2 linked regions of the Homo sapiens genome follow. The protein of the gene in region 2 interacts with the protein of the main gene of each other region in a pairwise test. Each region holds a gene or a part of one and is shown on either strand. Other genes may lie near its edges.

Region 1 (8,643 bases), on a different chromosome or scaffold from region 2:
TAAAACTTCATTAAACTTCTGCTCTTCAAAAGACACCATTAAGGAAAATAAAAAGCAAACCAGAGACTAAGGGAAATATATACAGACAGTCCCCAGTTTAATGATGGCATGACTTAGAATTTTTCAGTTTTACAATGGTGTACAGGTGATATGCATTCAGTAGAAATTGTATTTCAAGTACCCATACAGCCATTCGATTTTTCCTGTTAAGTGCAGTATTCAATAAATTGAATGAAATGTTAAGCACTTCATTTAAAAATAGTCTTGTGTTGGATGATTTTGCCTAAGTGTAGGCTAATATAAGTGTTCTCAGCATGTTTAAGGTAGGCTAGGCTATGATGTTTGGTAGGTTAGGTGTATTTTTTTTTTTTTTTTTTTTTGAGACAGAGTTTTGCTCTTCTTGCCCAGGCTGGAGTGCAATGGCACGATCTCGGCTCACCACAACCTCTGCCTCCCAGGTTCAAGTGATTCTCCTGCCTCAGCCTCTGGAGTAGCTGGGATTACAGGCATGTGCCACCACACCCGGCTAATTTTGTATTTTTAGTAGAGGTGGGGTTTCTCCATGTTGGTCAGACTGGTCTCGAACTCCTGACCTCAGGCGATCCACCCGCCTTGGCCTCCCAAAGTGCTGGGATTGCAGGTATGAGCCACTGCACCCGGCCAGGTTAGGTGTATTAAATGAATTTTCAACTTAACAATATTTTGCAATTATGATGGGATTATGGAGACATGACTTCATTGTAAACTGAGGAGCATTTGTATACAGATATGACAAAGCTTGTATCCACAATACGTAAAAAACTCTTACAACTCAGTAATGAGACAAAGAACCCAATTAAAAAATGGACAAGGCCAGGTGTGGTGGCTCACACCTGGTAATCCCAGCACTTTGGGAGGCTGGGGCAGGTGGATCACCTGAGGTCAGGAGTTTGAGACCAGCCTGACCAACATGATGAAACCCCATCTCTACTAAAAATGCAAAAATCAGCCAGGCATGGTGGCACACGCCTGTAATCCCAGCTACTCGGGAGACTGTGACAAGAGAATCACCTGAACCCGGGAGGAGGAGGTTGCAGTGAGCCAAGATGGGGCCATTGTACTCCAACCTGGGCAACAAGAGCAAAATTTTGTCTCCAGGGTGGGTGGGAGGTGGGCGAGGTAGGGAGGGAAGACAAAAAATTTGAACAAGTTTCAGAAAAAAGATATATAAATAACTAATAAGTACATGAAAAGATGTTCATTGCATTTAATTTTAATGCAAATTAAAATCACAATGAGATACTACCACACACTCACAAGTATGATTGTAACTAACAGGGCTGACATTACTAAGTACTGATGAGGTTGTATAACAATTGGGGCTCTCTTATACACCTGATGAAAATGTAAACTGGTAACAACAATTTGGCATTTTCTTCAGTTAAATGTAGCTGGGTGTAGTGGCTCACACCTGTAATCCCAGAACTTTGGGGAGGCCAAGGCAGGAGGATTTCTCAAACCCAGGAGTTCAAGACCAACTTGGGCAATATAGTGAGACCCTGTCCCTATAAAAAATAAAATCAATTTTTTAAAAAAGAGTTAAATGTGCATTTACCTATTTGATCCAGCAATTTCACTCTTGGGTATTTACCCAAGAGGAAGAAAAAGAGACATGTTTACACAAAGAATTGTATACAAATGTTCACAGCAGCTTTATTCATGAAAGCCTAAAATTGGAAATAACCCAAAGTACATCACATCGACAGAAGAATATACAAATCGTAGCATACCTATGCAATGGAATACTATTCAGCAATGAAAATTAACCACCAATACACCTAATCATGTAGACCGATTTTACAGAAAAGCTGAAGAACAGCCTGGCCAACATGGTGAAACCCCGTCTCTACTAAAAATACAAAAAGTTGTATAGTGAGACCCTGTCTCAAAAAAAAAAAAAGGAAAAGCTGAGCAAAAGAACACACAAAAGTGTGCACAATGCATGATTCCATTTGTATGAAGTTCTATAATAGTCAAAACTAAACTATAGAGACAGAAAGAGCAGTATTTGCCTGGGACTAGGAGTAGGAGGATAGCTGCTAACACACAGAATTGGGGGGTGCTGGCCAGGCATGGTGGCTCACACCTGTAATCCCAGCACTTTGGGAGGCCAAGGTGGGTGGATCACTTGAGGTCAGGAGTTCGAGACCAGCCTGGCCAACACGGTGAAACCTCATCTCTACTAAAAGTACAAAAATTAGCTGGGCATGGTAGTGCATCTCTGTAATCCCAGCTACTTCTTGCAAGGCTGAGACATGAGAATGGCTTGAACCCGGGGGGCTGAGGCTACAGTGAGCCAAGGTCAAGCCACTGCACTCCAGCCTGGGCGATAGAGGAAGACCCTGTCTTAAAAAAAAACAAAAAAACAAAAGAACTTTTGGGGTGATGGGAATTTTAAATATCTTGACTGGAGTAGTTACATAAGTGTATGTATACATTTTTCAAAATTCATAAATTTTCAGGTGCAGGACAGACTTAAACTGAATAGCTACATTTCATCCTTGATTATCTTTGACCTCACTTACAAATAATTAACCACATGATAGTCTGTCATATGTCATAGTTCCAAGTTTTCTTAAACAAAACAGAACATGGACGAAGCGCTCAATAGGCATTCTAGTAGAAAACAAACCCAAGTTTTGCACCCTCTTGGCTGCTGCATGTTTACTTCCTGGGAGCATGTCCTACCATATCAGTTTCCTATTGCCGCTTCATGAAATTGCCACAGACTTAATGGTATAAAACGACACACATTGTTTTATAGTTCTGGAGGTCTGAAGTACAAAACAGGTCTCACTAAGCTGACATCAAGGTGTCATCAGGGTAGCATTTCTTCTGGAGGCTCTGGGGGAGAATCCATTCCTTGCCTTTTCCAGCTTCTACAGGCTTTCCTCATTCCTTGAATCGTGGCTCCCTTTGAGCCAGCAAGCAGAATTCTGCTCTCATCCTCATATCTCCATTTCGCATCCTGACTCTGACTCTTCTACCTCCCTCTTATAAGGACCCTGTGATTAGACTGTGCCCACCTGCATAATCCAGGATTGTCTTCTCATCTCAAGATTTTTAATTAACGACAAAGACCCTTTTGGCACTTAAGTTCATATGTTTAACAGATTCCAGGGATCAGGACATGGATATCGTTGATGGCTATTATCTTACCTTTTTTTTTTTTTCTTTTTTTTTTTAGACGTAGTCTCACTCTGTTGCCCAGGCTGCAGTGCAATGGTGAGATCTCGGCTAACTGCAAACTTCCCTCCTGGGTTCGAGCAATTCTCATGCCTCAGCCTTCCGAGAAGCTGGGATTACAGTCACCTGCCACCACACCCAGCTGACTTTTATATTTTTAGGAGACTGGGTTTTGCCATGTTGGCCAGGGTGGTCTTGAACTCCTGACCTCAGGTGATCCTCCCATCTCTGCCTCTCATAGTGCTGGGATTACAGGCGCGAGCCACTGCGCCTGGCCTAACCTACTTTTATTCTACAATGATTCTACTCTTACCTAACTTAGAAAAACTTGGTCTCTGAAGGGCCTTTATTGATGATGTGGGATTTCTGCCCCTTCTTCAAAACACTGGTCTGCCCCTGTCGAAACACCTGCTTTATCTCATGGAGGCTCCAGGTTGACTTTCATAACTAAGTAAAGTCTTGTATGTAGGATTCGGGTTTCAGGTTCATGGGGCCTTGAGATTCAAAGTTCAGGAGTTCTAGATTTGAGACACTAGAGGGAGACTTAGGCCTTGAAAAAGTGACCTCAATTCTAGGAGTAAGTGCTGAGACTCAGAGGAATTTTTGGCTTGAACTTGACCCAGGGTTCAGGCAACAGAGAGCAATGGCATAGGGAAGTATGGCATTTACTTTTTCAAGGGGGATAAAAAAGCAGAAGTGGCTGGGAGAGGTGGCTCACGCCTGTAATCCTAGCATTTTGGGAAGCTGAGGCGGGTGGATCACCTGAGGTCAGGAGTTTGAGACCAGCCTGGCCAACATGGAGAAACCCTGTCTCTACTAAAAATATAAAAATTAGCCTGGTGTGGTGGTGGGTGCCTGTAATCCCTGCTACTTGGGAGGCTGAGGCAGGAGAATCACTTGAACCTGGGAGGCAGAGGTTGCAGTGAGCCGAGATCGCGCCATTGCACTTCAGCCTGGGTGACAAGAGCGAAACTCTGTCTCAAAAAAAAAAAAAAAGGGCAGAAGTGGACTTGGCCACACACTTAATCTTAGATTCAAGGATGAAGAGAGCACCAAAGACCTGTACACAAATTAGCTGACTCAGAGGCCAAGGTCCTTCTCATTTTGTATCTAATAGCTCCCCTCCCCTCTCCAACACGGATGTAGGACAGAGAGCAAAATGAGAGGAAGTTGGAAATAGGTGAATAACAGCTGAAAGCCAAGGCCACAGTGTGCTCACCAGATAACATAAAAATTTTCAAGCTATAGTTACAGATTAAGTCTCTCTTAACTTTATTTTTCCTCTCATCTCTCCATTAAAGAATGATGCATCCTAGGCTAGGCACGGTGGCTCATGCCTGTAATCCCAGCACTTTGGGAGGACGAGGCGGGTGGATCACCTGAGGTCAAGAGTTCAAAAACAGCCTGACCAACATGGTGAAACCCCGTCTCTACTAAAAATACAAAAAATTAGCCGGGCGTGGTGTTGGGCGCCTGTAATCCCAGCTACTCGGGAGGCTGAGGCAGGGGAATCGCTTGAACCTGGGAGGCAGAGGTTGCAGTGAGCCAAGATTGTGCCATTGCACTCCAGCCTGGGCGACAAGAGCAAAACTCCGTCTCAAAGAAAAAAAAAAAGAATGATGCATCCTTGATGCAGAGTAGGAGATAATGAAAAATAAATAAATAAAACAAAACAAAACAAAAAAGAATGATGGATCCACCTTGCCTTAATCTTTATTTAAAGAAAGAGAAAGTTTACCAAATTCAGATGTCATTGAAGAACTTTGGAATTTGGTACCCAGTGATCCACCCTACAAAATTCATGTCATTTGCATCATAGGCTTTCTCATCACTAAAGATGCAAATCCCCACGATAATGTCCCTCTCAGTCGGCCCCCTGTTTGTACAGACAGCTCAGATTCCCATAACTGCCTGAGATGCGGGAATGAGTCATCCTCTGCCCAAGCAGGTGGCAGTGGGCACACCTGAAGCAACAAAGTCCAGGAACAATCAGCACAACTTATGACTCCAGAGGAGGAAGTCCAGAGACAGAGCACCATGACTTCTGAGAAAGGTAAAATGGATCCGGGGGCTTGGCAAGTATTCTTGAACAATGCAAGAATGGTGTGTGTGTGTGTGTGTGTGTGTGTGTGTGTGTGTGTGTGTGTGTGTGTGTGTCCTGCTGATTCTTGCATCTGTGGGTGTTTTCAAACTTCCCTATTATTGATTAATATATTAGTCTTAAATAAGATGGTTTATTATTAGTAAATATTTACATCTCCAAGTGACTTTAACCAAATCAGTGTTTGTTTCACCATGATAAAAAATTAAGTAGCCAGGCGCTGTGGCTCACACCTGTAATCCCAGCACTTTGGGAGTCCAAGGAGGGTGGATCACTTGAGGCCCAGGGTTTGAGACCAGCCTGGCCAACATGGTGAAACCCTATCTGTACTAAAAATACAAAAATTAGCCAGGCATGGTGGCGCATGCCTGTAGTCCCAGCTACTCGGGAGGCTGAGGCAGGAGGATCACTTGAACACAGGAGGCGGAGGTTGCAGTGACCTGAGATCACGCCACTGCACTCCAGCCTGGGCAACAGAGCAAGACTCTGTCTCACAAAAATAAAAAAAAAGTTAAGTAAAAGTACAACTGTTTAAATAACAGTTTAAGGTAACAACAGACGTGATAGCATGAGAACAATGTGCTAATTGACAAATGAATTGACTATAACTAATTGATAAATTTGTGCACAGTCAGTGTTAGAAAAATGCATGGGAGAGGAAGAACACTTCAGGCTGAAGGAAGTAATTTCAGCTGAGCTAGGATTTGAGCTGGATTCTAAGAGAAGTGTAGACCTAAAAAAATTTTTATCTTATTTTGTTTTTAGAGACTAGCGGGTGGGTTCACTACTTCGCCCAGGCTGGTCTGGAACTCCTGGGCTCAAGCAATTCTCCACCCTTGGTCTCTCAAAGTACTAGGAATACAGGCATGAGCCACCATGCCTAACCAAATTTTTTTTTTTTTTTTTTTAAGACTCGCCCTGTTGCCTAGGCTGGAGTACAGTGGTGTGATCACTGCTCACTGCTGTCTTGACCTCCTGGGCTCAAGAGATCCTCCCGCCTCACCTTCCTGGGTAGCTGGGACAACAGGCATGGGCCACCAGCCCTGCTAATTTTTTTGTAGAGATGAGGTCTTGCTTTATTGCTCAGGCTGGTCTTGAACTCCTGGGCTCAAGTGATCCACTAGCCTCGGCCTCCCAAAGTACTGGGATTACAGGTGTAAGCCACCATGCCAGGCCAGAAGGGCAGACTTTGGATCGACAAAGAAGAGGAGATTCCAGGTTGATTGAATCCTATTGATGAACAGAATTTAAAAGCTTTTATAGAGACTTGTGTCTGGAATATAATGAATAAACTGGTTAGGCTACAAAAAATTTATGTAAACAATTTGCAGTAAGACCAGAAAGCAAATTTGAAGTGTTATTATACTATAGAGGACTTCGAATGCCAGGCTCAAGGAATGAAAGTTTTTCTTTATGGTAGAGGGAATATCTTTGGAGAATTTATGAATAGCACAGAGATATGACTAAAATAGTGCTTTAGACACATTTACTTGACATGTGATGGGTTTTGGACTGGAAGCAAGGAGACCAGTTAGAAGACTATTGCAATAGTGTGAGTGTGATGGGGCAGAAGGTAATATAGATATCAGTTTGGAGTTGAAGTAACAATTTATTTTCTCCTTTATGTTCTTCATCTGTTAGAATTCTTTTTTAAGGTCAGGTGTGATGGCTCACACCTGTAATCCCAGCACTTTGGGAGGTCAAGGCAGGCGGATCACCTGAGGTAGGGAGTTTGAGACCAGCCTGACCAACATGGAGAAACAACGTCTCTATTAAAAATACAAAATTAGCTGGGCACGGTAGCACATGCCTGTAATCCCGCTACTTGGGAGGCCAAGGCAGGAGAATCACTTGAACCAGGGAGGCGGAGGTTGCAGTGAGCCGAGATCGCGCCATTGCACTCCAGCCTGGGCAACAAGAGCAAAACTCCATCTCGGGAAAAAAAAAAAAATTCTTTTTTAAGTGGCATACTGGGGGAAAGACCAAACACATTATTTGATTGTAGTAGCTAATACCTTCCCTGGACTTTTCTTATGAAGGTGGTGTGTTCTATACCTCAAACTGTCCCCAGTCATGTGGCTGGTATCCTTGTCTTTGCATCCCAGGAATAATATTGATCAGTGTAGACACAGCATATGTCTCACCGTCCCTTTCTGAACTTCTCACTGCTGCTTCAGCTCTTTCAGAGAAAGTGTCTTCCCATCATCAAATGCCTTTTTCCTATGATGTGGCCTCTGTTTATGTAAGGCTCCCTCGGAGTAGATTACTGGTTCAAGGGCCCCAATTTGCACTAAGATCTGAGAAGAGCTCATTCCAACGTGCCAGCCACCCCCTTCCTCCTTCCTCCCAATGCTCAAATCCCCCATTCCTCCTTTAAAAGTAAGAGATTTGTTCTTCAGGTCACACTTGGAATAGTGTTTCCTGACTTCGTCCTATTTCCTAGATATCTGGCTAATTTCTCATTTTAGTTCTTCTCCCCAGCTAGAACCACTCTCTGCAAAAAAACCATGCCATGCCCAAGTCCTTTCTACAACTCCTCTACCATCCAGTGCAAATGCATAAAAAGTAACACACACAAACAGGTACACACACAGCCTAGGGTAAAGCATGCTCTGTTTTAAAGGAAGTGTCTTCCAGAGCCTGTGACTCTTCTCTGTTCAAAAATAGCACCTGCGAGTTAAGGTTTGGCCAGGAGCGTGGGATGAATTTCTTGCCTGCATCTCCCCAAATCACCCTTAGAGGTTCAGGCCTTGTCAGCGCCCATTTTATTGCCAGGAACATCCCCAAGCCTCTGAGTCCTGAGAGGCGCAGGTCTCTAAAATTCAGTACTCTCCCTTGAATCATCCCCATACTCTCTAATGGCTTCTTACACTTAGCATACTATCCAGAGCTGGTAAGGCCCTGTGGCTTACCCCCTCCATTGCTCATCTCCCTCCATTGCAGGTCTTGATCACTCCGACCCAGCCAAGCTGACTTGCTTGCTCTTCCTTGAACAAGTCAAGGTCCACACTTCAGGTCGTTTGCACCTGGTGTTCCCTGTGCTTGGAAAGCTCTCCCCTTCCCCGACGTCCACATGTCTTGCTCTCTAAATTTACATTCAGGTCTCAGCTTTAATGTCCCTCTTTATAGATGTCTTCTCTGACTGCCATCTCTGATATGGTCGATATGGTGCCCCCACCACCTTTTGTCTCCTTCCAGTACTTTTCTTCTTCCTTTTTTTTTGAGATGGAGTCTCTCTCGCTCTGTCGCCCAGGCTAGAGTGCAATGGTGTGATCTTGGCTTACTGTAACCTCCACCTCCCAGGTTCAAGTGATTCT
Region 2 (7,740 bases):
CATTTCATTTCTCAGGAAGGTAACAATGGATGGCCTTCTTGGACGCAAATGTAAATGCTGTTTGCATAGGGGAGTGTCCCATCTAACCAAAATATTCTGGGAGAAAACTGCCAGGCACCTTTGAAAAGAAATCAAATTACCTATGAGGACAATAAATTAGGATAGAATACCCTAATAAAACGAGATTCCTATTCTCATAAAATCACCTTCTTGCTGGGTGCTGTGGCTCATGCCTCTTAACCCCAGCACTACGGCACGCTGAGTGGGGAGGGTCTCTTGAGGTCAAGAGTTCAAGACCAGCCTGGGCAACATAGTGAGAGCTCCCCCGCCCTACTCCACAAAGTATTTAAAAATTAGCTGGGCATGGTAGTGTGTGCCTGTAGACTCAGGAGGCTGAAGATGGGAGGAACCCTTGAGCCCAGGAGTTTGAGACTGCAGTGAGCTATAATCAGGCCACTGGCACTCCAGCCTGGGTAACAAAGATCCTGTTTCTAAATAAATAAATAAATGATATCGCTTAACTTCATTGAAATTTTACACGTTAACAAACTTTAGAACTAAATGCTTTAAAATATAAACCATTAAAAAATCATTTGACTTAAATATTAAATTCTAAATTTTATATAGAAAATACCCACTATTCGTCCATAGAGAAAAGCAAATATACTTACGATTAAATTGTGACACATATTTATCACCCACAGTAATATATTCCATCTCACTAAAGAGGCCAATCCTTTCCATGTCCGTTTTTCCTCCTTCCGCAGGCATGGTGGCGTCTGGTGGTGGTACTCTCTATACCGCTAACTTCAAAAGTTTCCCTAGGGTCACGTGTTTTATAGCAAAGTCCTACTTTACATTGAAAATAAAAATAAAGGGGAAAAGTTTAGAAAAAAGTGGTTACTAATTTCCAGTTCTAATTACTTTCAGTCTGAGAGTTTAAGGTTTACTACAAAACAATAGCCTCATACTCCATGGGGAAAGAACCTACTCTGCGGGGTGGGGGAGAATACTGGGATTCAAAATTCTCCAGATGAGCCCTCCCCCTTGACTCTCCGTATGAAGTGCTCACAAATTACAAAGGAATGTACAAGATCTCATCGATTACACTGCCATTTATCTGTTGGAAATGATAAAATTATTACTGTACGGTGTATTATAAACAAATCCTTCTTTTGAGAAGTTCAGGGTAGATTTTAAAATCATAATTATATAAGGCAGACATTTTTACAGTTTAAATACAATGATTTCAGCATCCTGCATTGTCCCTTATGTTGAAAATATAACAGCTTTTCAGGATGTACAACACATTGAGGTATTACCCTACAACTCTTGAGGTTTTTTTCAAGTTTAAATAAACATAATAAGTGTGTCACTGGCAAAATTATAAAGGGAATGGGGAAGAGAACAATTATTTAGGCAAGATAAAAACGAGAACAAAAACAAAAATTCTACAATGAATTCTGAGTATTTGTTAACAGGTATACTTCAACTCTGAGCTTTCTTTGGAAATGACCACTTCAAACAAAGGTGAAATATTAAACATGCAACTCTTTATTTAGAAATTAATTGTTTTAAGACAGAGTCTCTTTTTTTTTTGTTGTTGTTGTTGTTTTTTTTTTTTTTAGACAGTCCCAGGCTGGAGTGCAGTGGCATGTTCTTGGCTCACTATAACCTCCGCCTCCCAGGTTCAAGCGATTCTCCTGCCTCAGCCACCTGAGTAGCTGGATTACAGACACGCGCCACCATGCCCAGCTGTTTTTGTATTTTTAGTAGAGACAGGGTTTAACTATGTTGGCCAGGCTGGTCTCGAACTCCTGGCCTCAAGTGATCCACCCACCTCGGCCTCCCAAAGCGCTGGGATTACAGGCATGAGCCACCGCGCCCGGCCAGAAATTAATTTCTAATAGTAGACATGTTATTTTTAAAAAGGAAGAGGCCCAAGGAGCTAAGAATACTTACCTCTATCCCATTCTAAAGTTTTTAAAGCACCAATTATGAGCTAAGCACTGGGCATACATAAGTGAAGAAAACAAACATTGGGTTAGTCCTCACAGTTTGTAATCCAAAGTAAGAACCATTTTTTTTTTTTTTTTGAGACAGAGTTTCGCTCTTGTAGCCCAGGATGGAGTGCAATAGCGCGATCTCGGCTCACTGCAACCTCCGCTTCCCAGGTTCAAGCGATTCTTCTGCCTCAGCCTCCCAAGTAGCTGGGATTACAGGCGTCTGCCACCACGCCCAGCTAACTTTGTATTTTTTAGTAGAGACGGGGTTTCACCATGTTGGCCAGGCTGGTCTTGAACTCCTGACCTCAGGTGATCCACCTGCCTCGGCTTCCCAAAGTGCTGGGATTACAGGAGTGGGCCACCGCGCCCGGCTGGTAAGAACCTTTTACCTTAAATTTATTTATTTCTTTGCTTATTAAGATGGAGTCTCGCTCTGTCGCCCAGGCTGGAATGCAGAGGCGCTATCTCAGCTCACTGCAACCTCCGCCTCCTGGGTTCAAGGAATTCTCCTGCCGCAGCCTCCCAGGTAGCTGGGACTACGGGCACCTGCCACCACGCCCGGCTGATTTTTGTATTTTTAGTAGAAACGGGGTTTCACCATGTTGGTCAGGCTGGTCTCAAACTCCTGACCTCAAGTGATTCACCTGCCTCGGCCTCCTAAAGTGCTGGGATTTCAGGCGTGAGCCACCGCGCCCGGCCTTTTACCTTAAATTTAAAGCAAGCTGTTTGAGTGCCTCTCTGCAAGCCTGCCTGAAACTGGCTCACCTGAGCATGAATCATTGCTAATACGTAACACCAAAGGGGCAAGTGAAGATTCATTTTAAACTGAAACATAACTAAATACAACGCCCTTCCCCACATCCTACCTCTTCCATTAATCAGAGATGCTTTAAAACCAAACTTCAGTCAAGATTTAGTACTTTCATTTACCTTATATTTCAAAGCTCCACGGCACAAGGGCAGGAGCTGAGACAGGTTCCTCCCTCTCACGGTATCCCCGCATCTGCGCAGCTCCCGGCACACAAGCGAGCCAGGGAGGAGGGAGGGAAGAAATTCTTGCCTAGAACTTTCCCATCACTTAACTTTTTTCTTATTAATTTTTTTTTTTTTTTGAGACGGAGTCTCTCTCTGTTGCCCAGGCTAGGAGTGCAGTGGAGCTGTCTTGGCTCTCTGCAGCCTCCGCCTCCCGGGTTCAAGCGATTCTCCTGTCTCAGCCTCCCGAGTAGCTGGGACTACAAGCACCCGCCACCATGCCCGGCTATTTTTTTTTTTTTTTTTTTTTTTTTTTTTTTTTTTTGGTATTTTTAGTAGAGACAGGGGTTTCACCATTTTGCCCAGGCTGGCCTCGAACTCGTGAGCGCAGGTGATGCGTCTGCCTTGGCCTCCCAAAGTGCTGGGATTACAGGCGTCAGCCACCGCGCCCGGCCCGCCACTACTTAACTCTTATTGAGCAACATTTACAAAATTATTCATTCACTTATTTAACAGATATTCTGCAATCCCCTTCGGGGCAAGCTTGCTGGTAGAAACTAGAAACAGATTTAAGAAGGCATAGATGCTGCCCGCAAGGAGCTTACAATCTATTAGACAAGAAAATAGAGCATAGCCGAATTATGGCACGTTCCCTTGCAAAAGGTACGGATGGAGCGTCAGGAGAGGTGAAGAAGGGGCAGAAAACTGGAGGAGGTGATGAGGAGTCTGTTTCCCAGAGAGGAAACGGAGGCTGGGAGGTGGCAGGTATCTAAGGGGCAACACCTGGCGTCCGCGAGGACCAAGTCACCTTTCTTGAGGACACCCACTCCGACAGCCGAGATCAGGTTGCCCCAGCTCGTCCAGGTTGCCCCAGCTTGTCCACGTTAACTGCGCTGCGGGAGCGGCGAGGGTTCCCAAGCGCGCGACACGCCTGGGCTGCGCAGCGCCTCTGCACGTTCCACCACAGCTGGCGTTTATTGTGTGATGTGTTGCCCCGGGTACGGGAGAATCCATTCCAAGCACGCTGTGGGAGGATACGAGGAGATTCGAATCCGCATCGAAGAACACACAGAAGGATGTGTGAGCTTCTGTAGGACAGAAAAGACTTAACTAATAGAATTTACCAAACATAAGTCTTCGGCTACCCGCCCCGCCTCGCCGTCCGCGAGGGACTGCGGTGTGGTACGCTCCGTGACGTCATGCCGCCGAGCATGTCGGGAGTTGTAGTTGGTCCGCCCGGGCCCCGCCCCTGGGCCGTGCGGTGACACCACTTCAGGGCCGGCCCCCGGAACTTTTGGGCAGGCGTCAGCGCCCGTGTCACCGCCACGTCGCGGACATGGTGAGTATCTCTGCTCGTCACCGACCCCTGTGTTTTTCCCCGGACTTTGGCAGCCGCCACGAGCGGGCTTCACAGCGCCTGAAAGGAGCTGGTCCTGCCGGGGTCCAAGATGGCAGCTGCGAGCTGCGTGGGCAGGGCGGCTCTCCAGTTCGCCTGTCTCCGCGCTGGGCCGGGGGGAAAGTGCCCTACACAAGTGTGCACCCCGCCTCGGCCACCTTGGACACGCACCCCCTGCTACTTCTCTGTGTGAAAGTATTTTGAGAGACTTCGGCGTTTTTGAAGCCTTGCAAGAAGGGCTTAACCTGGGACAGGCGCAACTTTCTTCGGATATTATATTCCCCTAGTTCCCGTGGTATTTCCCTCCCCTGGTTTCTCTCCTGTCTCATTGCTCAGCAAGGTTCTCCAATCCCTATCCTAAATGGTGGTGCTCTTCAGGGACGCTTTACACCCTATGCGTTCTCCTAAAATTTTATCTCTAAGTTAGACCTTTCTTCTGAGCTCCAGACCCACAAATCTGCTAACCGTGCCTCCACTTGGATAGCTCATATGTATTTCAAGCTCAGCAAGTTCCAAACTGAGCATTTCCACTTCCCCACAGCCCACACCTGCTCTTCCTCCAGGAACCCCCAACTCTGTAGATGGCACCACCATACATCCTGTTGTGCCTGCCCAAAACCTGGAAATCATCCTTGACATCTCCCTCTTCTCAACTCCCCGACATGCAGTCAATAATCAAGTCCTATAGATGCTACTTCTAAATGTCTGTCTGTTGTCACTGTCGCCACTCTTACCATCCTTGGCCTTGAGATCTATCCATCTGGGGTAGTCACCTAAGTGGTCTTTTAAGCAGATCTTCACTCATCGATGGCCCTGCCTGGAATGGGCTATTGCACCTTCACTCACCCTTCAGATCTCAGCCTCAGTATTATTTCTTCAGAGAGTATCTCAGCTAATTCGGAAGTCTAGGAAGACTAGTGCTTTTATGAATGATGTCTTGTGGAATCTTCATAACAACCCTGGGAAGTTGTGTATTTTTCCAGTTTTACAGAAGAGAAACAGACTTAAGTGATAAGTTAAATTGTGTAAAATTGTACAGTAAGTAGCAGAGTTAAAATTTGTTCTTTCCTGTCTAACTTTTATCTTCAGTATCTTTAAATATTTTTTATTTAAATGGGTACATACTAGTTTGTTTGGTAGTATTCTTTATTTAACTGATTTCTTATTAATAGCTATTTAAGTGGTTTCCATTTATTTTTCTGTGATGAACAACGGTAGAATAAATGGACAACATGAAGCTAAATTTGTCCTGAACTTTCTTGATTGTTTCCTTAGAATAAATTCTCAGAAGTAGAATTGGGACAAAGGGTATATGATCTTTCAAAAGATTACAATTTTAGAATAAATAAAAACAGTGACCCTTATAGAAATGTGACAAAGGATTTGTAAAATGAGAAAAACTGTATTGGTACCTATTTAATACTGTTCTGAGGATTGGAGTAAGTATGTATGTTTAGCATAGTGCCTTTTACATGTTTTTGTTTTATTTTATTTTGTTTTTTGGAGACAAGATCTTGCTCTGTTGCTTAGGCTGGAGTGCAGTGGTGTGATCATGGCTCACTGTAGCATTGACCTCCCCGGCCCAAGCAGTCCTCCCACCTTAACCTCCCGAGTAGCTGGACTACAGGTGCAGACCACCACACTCAGCTAATTTTTTTTTTTTTTTTTGGTAGAGATGGGGGTCTTCCTATGTTGCCCAGTCTGGTCTCTAACTCCTGGGCTCAAAGTGATCCTCCTGCCTCTGCCTCCCAAAGTGTTGGGATTACAGGCGTGAGCCACTGCACCCTGCCTGTGTTTTACATTTGAAGAGCTCAGTAAATGTTAGTACTTATTCATTTATTTCAAAATAGGGGTCTTAGTGTGTACTATGGTTCTTCAGCCTGTTTGAGAGATATGTTTTGAGAGTCTCATGAAATTTTTGAAACCTCTTCCCAAAAGAAATCTCCCGCTCTCTTTCTCCCTTCCTGTCTCTTTCTCTCGTGTGTGTGTGTGTGTATATATGTATGTATATATGTATGAATATGTGTATCTGTGTGTGTATATATGTGTACACAAACAATGATACATGTCATTTGTGATATATCATCAACTACCTGAAACAGTATATGGATCCAAGTAAAGAACTGATTAGTTCCATTTTGCAAGTGCTCTTTTCCCTTTATAAGTTGTAAGCATTGTCCTGTGCCTTTTAATTTTCAGCAAAAACATGATTTTTTTATGGCTATATGATATTCCTATTTTTTTTAACCAATCTATTGTTGGCAGTTAGGTTAATATCCATGTACCCGAATCTTTGTGTGTTTTTCAGATTTTTCTTAGACTAAGTCTGAGATTCTAAATGCATATCACTAGATCAAGCCTATGAATATAAACCTTTGATTCTTACTGCCATATTCTCTGAAGGATTCCACCAGTTGATATCCCACCCTCAGTATGAGTTTCCTCTCATTGTCTTGACTCCCTGGTATTATATTAGGTTCAGTGCCTTGTCACATTCTTAAACTAGTTCTTTACTGTTGATGTTTTATTGTCATTGTTAAACCTGTCAAGATTATAATTTGGAAAGATTGTCTTAAAGCAGTAGTTCTCAACCATTCACATTAGAATCACTGGCATGGGGGCATAGGATACTTTTAAATATCCCTGTGCCAGCTGGGCGCGGTGGCTCACGCCTGCAATCCCAGCACTTTGGGAGGCCGAGACAGGCGGATCACTTGAGGCCAGGAGTTCAAGACCAGCCTGGCCAATATTCTGAGATCCCGTCCTTACTAAAAATACAAAAATTAGCCAGGCGTGGTGGTGTATGCCTGTAATCTCAGCTACATGGGAGGCTGAGGCAGGAGAATCTCTTACACCCAGGAGGCGGAGGTTGCAGTGAGCTGAGATTGTGCCACTGCACTCCAGCTGTGTGACAGAGTGAGACCCTGTCTCCAAACAAAAAACCAAAATCCCTGTGCCTAGGCCTTAGACCAGTTAATCAGAATCTCTGGGGGTACAGCCCAGGCCTCAGTATTTCAAGCTCCCCAGGTGATTTCAGTATAGAACAAAGGTTGAGAACCCCTGATTTAAAATTTTGGGGTTGCTTTTGTTTTTGTTTTTTCTATAAAACAAGGAATTAACTCATGAAATAATTTGAAGAATCAAGGTTAATTAATGTCTTAACACTAAACTTAGATTCTAATTTATATGAATATGAGTTTGTTTTGTTTTACAAGGGAGTTTGTCTTTATCTTTATTTGTTCTAGGTGATTTCAGAAAGTATGGATATACTCTTCAGAATAAGAGGAGGCCTTGATTTGGCTTTTCAGCTAGCTACTCCTAATGGTAGGTCTTCTGAAAAATTCTTTTTTATTAGAAAATTGATAG

Evidence for each region. The genes of interacting proteins can lie anywhere in the genome.
Region 1: the proteins of UFSP2 (region 2) and APOBEC1 interact in binary tests that used the Homo sapiens proteins (3 or more experiments, as listed by UniProt).

What each region holds. Positions count from the first base shown.
Region 1 is NC_000012.12:7,662,492-7,671,134, reverse strand, and holds the start of APOBEC1 (C->U-editing enzyme APOBEC-1), read left to right. Parts: upstream 1-5,226; 5' UTR 5,227-5,262; coding exon 5,263-5,278; intron 5,279-8,643. UniProt on the Homo sapiens protein: Cytidine deaminase catalyzing the cytidine to uridine postranscriptional editing of a variety of mRNAs. Form complexes with cofactors that confer differential editing activity and selectivity.
Region 2 is NC_000004.12:185,422,443-185,430,182, reverse strand, and holds the start of UFSP2 (ufm1-specific protease 2), read left to right. Parts: upstream 1-4,218; 5' UTR 4,219-4,314; coding exon 4,315-4,317; intron 4,318-7,619; coding exon 7,620-7,698; intron 7,699-7,740. Other genes in the region: CFAP96 (cilia-and flagella-associated protein 96), read right to left, coding at 672-771. UniProt on the Homo sapiens protein: Thiol-dependent isopeptidase that specifically cleaves UFM1, a ubiquitin-like modifier protein, from conjugated proteins, such as CD274/PD-L1, CYB5R3, DDRGK1, MRE11, RPL26/uL24, TRIP4 and RPL26/uL24.